2 linked regions of the Homo sapiens genome follow. The protein of the gene in region 1 interacts with the protein of each later gene in a biochemical or structural test. Each region holds a gene or a part of one and is shown on either strand. Other genes may lie near its edges. The genes, in order: UFD1 and GZMK.

What was found.
Region 2: of the proteins of UFD1 (region 1) and GZMK, one has a biochemical effect on the other in vitro, tested with the Homo sapiens proteins (one study listed by BioGRID).

Annotation. Positions count from the first base shown.
Region 1 is NC_000022.11:19,458,477-19,462,401, forward strand, and holds part of UFD1 (ubiquitin recognition factor in ER-associated degradation protein 1), read right to left. Parts: intron 1-3,925. UniProt on the Homo sapiens protein: Essential component of the ubiquitin-dependent proteolytic pathway which degrades ubiquitin fusion proteins.
Region 2 is NC_000005.10:55,026,931-55,030,855, forward strand, and holds part of GZMK (granzyme K precursor), read left to right. Parts: intron 1-3,503; coding exon 3,504-3,654; intron 3,655-3,925.

The sequences.
Region 1 (3,925 bases):
TCTATCGCCCAGGCTGGAGTGCAGTGGTGCGATCTTGGCTCACTGCAACCTCCGCCTCCAGGGTTCAAGCACTTCTCCTGCCTCAGCCTCCCTAGTAGCTGGGACTATAGGCATGTGCCACTACACCTGGCTAATTTTTGTATTGTTGTAGAGATGGGGTTTCACCATGTTGGCCAGGCTGGTCTCGAACTCCTGACCTCAGGTGATCCGCCCACCTCGGCCACACAAAGAACTGGGATTACAGACATAAGCCACCGCACTCGGCCTTCGAAATTTATTCTAAGTAAATAACTAGCTATACCCAATGAGAAAATTCTAAGAATGCTCATACCAACGTCACTAATACCACTGTACAGATGCTCCTTGACTTATGATGGAACCAAGTCCCATAAACTTATAAGTTAAAAATGTATTAATATTCCTAACCTACCAAACATCATAGTGCAGCCTGCCTTAACCATTCTCAGAACACATACATTAGCCTACAGTTGGGCAAAATCATCTACTATAAAGCTTATTTTATAATAAAATGTTGAATAACTCATGTAATTTATTGAATACTGTACTGAAGATCAAAAACAGAATGGTTGTATAGGTATTCAAAGTATGGTTTTTACTGAATGTGTATCATGTTTGCATCATAATAAAGTTGAAAAATTCTAGGTAGAACCATGGTCAGGGACTGTCTGTATACTCAAAATGCAGCTGAATTATATTTCTTCATATGTAAATTTACAGTTATACAATGGTATGCTACGCAGCCAACAGGAAAATAATTGTAAAACCAGTCATGTTGCTTGTGTCTAAGATGACCTCACCTATGTAAAAAAGGCACATAAAAAATGTCCAGAAGCAGGGCCGTGCGTGGTGGCTCACGCCTGTAATCCCAGCACTTTGGGAGGCCGAGGAGGGCAGATCACGAGGTCAGGCAAATGAGACCATCCTTGCTAACATGGTGAAGACCCGTCTCTACTAAAAAATACAAAAAATTAGCTGGGAGTGGTGGCAGGTGCCTGTAGTCCCAGCTATTCGGGAGGCTGAGGCAGGAGAATGGTGTGAACCCAGGAGGTGGAGCTTGCAGTAAGCTGAGATCGGGCCACTGCACTCCAGCCTGGGCAACAGAGCGAGACTCTGTGTCAAAAACAAACAAACAAACAAGCAAACAAACAAACTCCAGAAGCATAGAAATTAAAAGTGGCCCTATCTACTTTTTCCTGCATCATTTCAGGTTCTTTGCTTTTATCTAAAGTCTGTCTTGCTTTTTTTTTTTTTTTTTTTTCGAGATGGAGGCTCGCTCTGGCACCCAAGCTGGAGTGCAATGGTATGGTCTTGGCTCACTGCAACCTCCGCCTCCCGGGTTCCAGCGATTCTCTTGCCTCAGCCTCCCAAGTAACTGGGACTACAGGTGCGTGCCACCACACCCAGCTAATTTTTGTGTTTTTAGTAGAGATGGTGTTTCACTATGTTGGCCAGGCTGGTCTTGAACTCCTGACGTTGTGATCCACCCGCCTCAGCCTCCCAAAGTGCTGGGATTACAGGCATGGGCCACCATGCCCGGCCAGTATGTCTTGCTTTTACAACCATTTTAAAAAGTCTGGATAGTCCCACCATTTAAAAAAAAAACCTAAGCAGGGCCAAATCTACTTTTAAAAGTGTCATAATTATTGAATAGATAAGGAATAAAAAAAGGATCTGTCATTGTGTGGATATACTACCACTTATCCACTGAGCATCCGGCCTGTTTCCAATCATTTTGCTGTGTTAATGACACTACTATAAACATTCAAACATGTCTCCTAGGGCTTGGCTCATGCTTCTCTACCGTTTTCATGTTTTCAAAAGGCCACAAATAATCAGTGGGTCATAAAACCAACAGGGCTGCAAGCAGAACTGAAAAGGAAAGAATTGGAAGACAGTACCCTAGAAGTACTATTGCATTTAGTAAGGATAAATATTCCTGTGACATTTTCCATTTACTTTTATGTATTGGCATAATATTAAATACTTTTTTTTTAAACTATGGGACCAATTTTCTAGGTTGGTGCTCCTCAAACTACCTGGGAAGACCTAGTTTTTAAAAATGTGCAGTCTGCTGGACTGCCATGTGGTCCTCCTGCACAGAAGCAAGACACAACACACACCAGACGCCCAGAGCTCACCAAGACAAGTACTGGTTCTGTGGCCATGTGTGTGGAGGTTATGACAATGCCAAATTACTATACGTTTCTAAACATTCACTTTTGATTCCTGCTTCCTCGAGGCCCTGGCAACCACCATTCTTTTTTTTTTTTTTTTTCCCTTGAGGCAGGGTCTTGCTCAGTCCCCCAGGCTGGAGTGCAGTGCCTTGACCCTGGCTCACTGCAGACTCAACTGATCCTCCCGCCTCAGCCTCCTGAATAGCTGTAACTAGGCACATGCCACTACGCCCAGCTAATTTTAAAATTTTTTCATTAATTTTTTGTAGTGACAGGATCACACTATGTTACCCAGGCTACTCTCAAACTCCTGGGCTCAAACAATCCTCCAACCTTGGCCTCCCAAAGTGCTGGGATGCCAGGTGTGAACCACGGTGTCCAGGTGATTCTACTTTCTGTCTCCCATGAGTTTGACTACTCTAAGTACTCATGTAAGCGGAATGTAGTATTTGTCTGTCTGCATCTGGTTTATTTCACTGAGCAGAATGTTCATCCATGTGGTAGCATGTGTCAGAATTCCCTTCCTTTTTAATGTTGAATAATATTACATTGTATGTGTGTACCACATATTATTTACCCATTCATCTGCAATTTATTTTTGACTATGGTATGAGTTAGGAACTCAATTTGTTTTTTCATCTTAGGAATAGTCAATATCCCAGATTCCGCAACCCCAGTATCTCCTTTGCCTGGTGACATCAATGCTGCCTCAGTGGTGGACCAAGATTCTTTGTATATAAAGCTTTCTTCCACTGGCCTACTTGTCTACTCCAGAACCAATGCCATATGGTGTCTTAACTACTGGAGCTTTATTACACTCAGCTGCCGTATAGAATCTTCCTTATATATGACCAGATTCTTTTGTCAATATTTTATCTACAATCTATGTATCTGTATCAAGTGACAATGATCTGTAGTTTACCTTTCTCCTATCCTTGTGTGGTTTTGGTGATCAAGGTTATGCCGACCTCAGAGAATGAGTTGGGGGATATGTTCTTTCTCTATTTTTAGAATATCTAAGAGCAATTTATTGCTTGAGTGTGAGGAAGAACTTGCATATATAACCATCTGGGCCTGTGTTTCCTGGATTAAGATTTTTCTGATTGAATTACTTGACTGGCTATACAATTATTTAGGCTGTTTGTTTTTTTTTTTCTTTAGTCAAACTTCAATTACACTTTTCTCTAGGAAATAATTTATCAATGTCAAATAAGTTGGCTCATTTCTTAGTATAAAATTTTTCACAGTTTTATCTTTCAAGATATTTGCTTTATCTAATTCATTTTATTTGTTTTTAAACATTCAATATGCATGTAGACTTTTCAGGGTTTGCTTTTTTTTTGTTTGAGGCAAGGTCTTGCTTTATCACCTAGGCTAGAGTGCAGTGGCACGGTCACTGTTCACTGCAACTTCTGCCTCCCGGACTCAAGTGATCCTCCCACTTCAGCCTCCCAGGTAGCTGGGACTACAGGTGCATGCCACCATGCCCAGCTAATTTTTGTATTTTTTGTCGAGATGGGGTTTTGCCATGTTGCCCAGTCTGGTCTCAAACTCCTGGACTTAAGTGATCCACCCACCTCAGCCTCCCAAATTGCTGGGATTACAGGTGTGAGCTACCACACCCAGCTTCAGCTATCTTTTTTATTAACTTTATTGAATTGTAAACAGAGAACACTTTAATTCTAAACAACTCTCTCAAGAGAGTAAGTCTAGGCCAGGCGCGGTGGCTC
Region 2 (3,925 bases), on another chromosome or scaffold:
TTGTTAGATGGAACCTTCCACAGCCCCTTCCACATGGCCTCACTCCATCTCAAATGCTCAAGGCTCCTGGAACAAAATGGTTCAATGTTCAGGCTCTAGATTCAAGCCAACTGAGCTTTAATCCTGCCCGAATTTGCCTCCTGGAGGCAAAGGTCCTCAAGTTTATTCGTTTACCTGAACCTCAATTTCTTCATCTATAAAATGGGGATTGTCATAATACCTATCTCACCACGCTGTTGTGCGGTTTAAATGAGGGAAGCTTTGTAAAATGCTTAGCACAGAACACAAAGAACTTAATAGATGTTATCGAGTATTGTTATACAATTATCTGTGCCTTCCATGGTAATAACCAAGGAACTAATCTGATGTTGACGAGATAAGACTGGGAAGACCTCCCTCTCTGACAGCCAAGTTCTTCTCCCTCTCTCTTAGGCAAGAGAAATCTCCAAGACATAGGGACCCTGCCTTTGCTGCCAGACCTCAAGGGGCGGGTCTAAGCAGAACCACTGTTGAGTGTCCAGGCGCGCTGGCAGAGAAAAGAAGAGGCTTGAAGGGGGTTGGCACGGGGTTCAAAGAGGGATTGAGGAAAGAGCACTGGACTGGGAGTCACCAAAAGCCAAATTTGGGTCCTGATTCCCCTATTTATGAGGTGTGTCACCTTGGACCAGTCAGAGAACAATCTTTTACTGGTAAGGAATACACAGCCCGTCAGCTTTACCAGCCTTGAAAAAGGTTATTGTTAGGCTCAATGGAGACAATGTTTACAGATGTCTTCAGCAGACCCACTATAAGCCGCACTGTAGTTCTGCTCCATATATGAATCTCTTCCAGGAAAGCTCAGGGTGGGACTCCGGAAACCACATTTTAAACCAACACCTCCAGGTGATTCTGAAGCAAGTCTGAAGACTGCATTTGGGGAAATCCTGTGCTGTGCAACTGAAAAACACTGGCATTATTACTTCCTCTTTGTGTGAATTCAGACTTCAGTTTAGCTAAGGAGGTGGCATCCCAGAACTCAAGTAATTCCAGGTACCCTGTGGGCAGAAAATTTGACCTGAGTAGCACAGATTACAGTTGAAGGATATCTAGAAATTGAAAGGTCAGAAGGAATAATGGTCTGCTTGGGTTGTTTTTGGTCTTAACATGTCCCAGTGGAGACAAAAATAACCAAAACATTTCAAAGGCAATAACTAGCCGAGTAAATTAGTAAAAGACGAAAGAAACCCAGACATTTTTTCAGCATCCCTCCCTTAGTGAGAATCCACCCTCCATACCTCTCATTTGTACCTCATAGCCTTCTTTGTGTGAGTCATTTAGGCACGTGCCCACCTTTCTGTTAGAGCATTCATCCTGAAGATTTTTATGTCATCCTTCTCCTACAAAGTTTTGGGTTTAGTGGGTATGTTGAATTTGAATTCAAATCAATCCTAGGAAATCCAGTCCACATCCTATGAGAAATTTCCACCCGGTCCTGATTTTGCAATAGGCAAACTTTTCAACAAATAGAGCTGGAATTCCCAAAATAAATAAAAATAAACTCTTTTGGTAGAAACCAAAAAGTGGTCATTCCAGGCAGTCACAGCTCTGCCATAAGCAAACCCACTCTACCACAGGCATTTGCCATTTTCAAATCTGAAACAATCATGTCTTCCTTTTTCTGTATGTTTCTGTGCTCTTTGTAACTTTTATTAATCTTTATTAATCTATATGCATGAGTATGTGTGTTTTTACTGCAATCTACTTTGGTAGCTTTTCCAAGTAGCAAAGAAATAGTTACATGTAAACAAACAAATACAATTAAAAGATCTGAGGTGGACTTCATAAAGATAGACACTGTAATGGAATGTATCTGTAGTATACAAATGGCTCTACGGTTCTGCCAAAATCTCCAAAAAATTATTTCTACTTTATCACTGCTGTAAATGTAATTTTATCCAACAAAGAGTAAATCAGATCAATTGTGGCACTGTTGAAACACTGGTACTAGAACTGTGTATGACCAGAGATTTAAAAAGCAAACCTTGCCAGGCACAGAGACTCACGCCTGTAATCCCAGCACTTTGGGAGGCTGAGGCCAGTAGATCACCTGAGGTCAGGAGATTGAGACCACCCTGGCCAACATGATGAAATTCCGTCTTTACTAAAAATACAAAAATTAGCCAGGTGTGGCGGCACAAGCCTGTAGTCCCAGCCTCTCGGGAGGCTGAGGCAGGAGAATCGCTTGATCCTGGGAGGCGGAGGTTGCTGTGAGCCGAGATGGCGCCACTGAACTCCAGCCTGGGAAACAGAGCAAGACTCCTTCTCAAAAAAAAAAACGTTAAAAAAGAAAGCCAAAAAACAAACCTATTTCTTCACCTCACTCACCAGTTCGTATCCTCTAAATCTCCCCGATGGAATGGCTACTAACCTTAAAGTATCTTCATTTTAAATTAGCACTGTTTTCTTACCTTGAGGAAAGTTTTCCTTTCTTGTCCAAATCTTTGTTCTAATTGAGGGGACAGGACATATGGACATATCTGACTGTCATGTAATAGGCCTTACTTCCCCACATTGACCTGAGATGAAGTCTAGGCATGTGGGTGAGCAAGTGTAGGGTGGGGATCTTTGTGGTTTTTGTTTGTTTGTTTGTTTGTTTGTTTGTTTGTTTTTAAGAGATGGGGCCTTGTTCTGTCACCCAGGCTGTGACACTTCAGCCTCCAGCTCCAGGACTCAAGCAATCCCTCCTGCTTCAGCCTCTCAAACAGCTGGGACTGTAGGCATGCACCACCATGCCCAGCATGCACCAGTGTGCCCCTTAATGTTTTTTTAGAGATGGGGGTCTCACTGTATTGCCCAGGTTTCTCTCAAACTCCTGGCCTCAAATGATCCTCCCACCTCAGTCTCCCAAGTGGCTGGGATTACAGGCATGAGCCACCACACCTGGCTACCTTAATTATTAAAACACTTAATGTTGGGAAGATAAAAAAAGTTCTGGGGTTCTGGAGATGATAGTGGTGGATGAACAACAATATACATGTCCTTCATACCACCAAACTGTACATTAAAGAATGGTTAAAATGGTAAATTTTACCATTCTTATACCATTATGTATACTTTACCACAATAAACAAATTTTAATGGTAGTTGGTGTAAATCTCAAACTACAAACTCAAGGAATATAATTTGCTTTATTTTTACATAAATGAACATAATTTTGTTTTAAACTTGATCTAAGTCAATTAGGATTTCACTCCTTTTTCTTCCCCCAGTTGGATACAAGTTCTGATATTCTTTTGCAATGCCAGGGAATTGGTTTAGGGTGGGATTAAGGGCAAGTCATTTGGCCCTTAATATCAATTCATGCTGGGCTCCACTAAGACCTTTGTCACTCCACCTAATCTTAGGCAGGTTACCTTGGAGATAGCCCTTGTTTCTCTGTGTATACAACCCTCTCGACCATCACCACTCCCCACTGGGGGATTTGGAAATCATTCTGCTGCTTTCATTGTCTTTGCTTTTTTTAGGTTTACCAAAGGCCAGTCTCCCACTGTGGTTTTAGGCGCACACTCTCTCTCAAAGAATGAGGCCTCCAAACAAACACTGGAGATCAAAAAATTTATACCATTCTCAAGAGTTACATCAGATCCTCAATCAAATGATATCATGCTGGTTAAGGTAGGTAGTAGCATTGTCTTCCTTCTATTTTGTCAACATTTTTATACAGGATGGCTCAATTAGTTAAATCACCTACAAAATGCATTTTGCTAGCACCCTCCCCATGTTTGAGGTGATTATGATATATTTTATAAGGGCCCATGTTATTCCATATACTGTCTTGAAAGAAACAAGAATTTATCACAAATGCACCAGGGCTGTGTTTATACAAGGAAAAGCAACTCTGATACTCAACATATGTAGGAGGGGAACATCTTAACAGGCCCAAGGA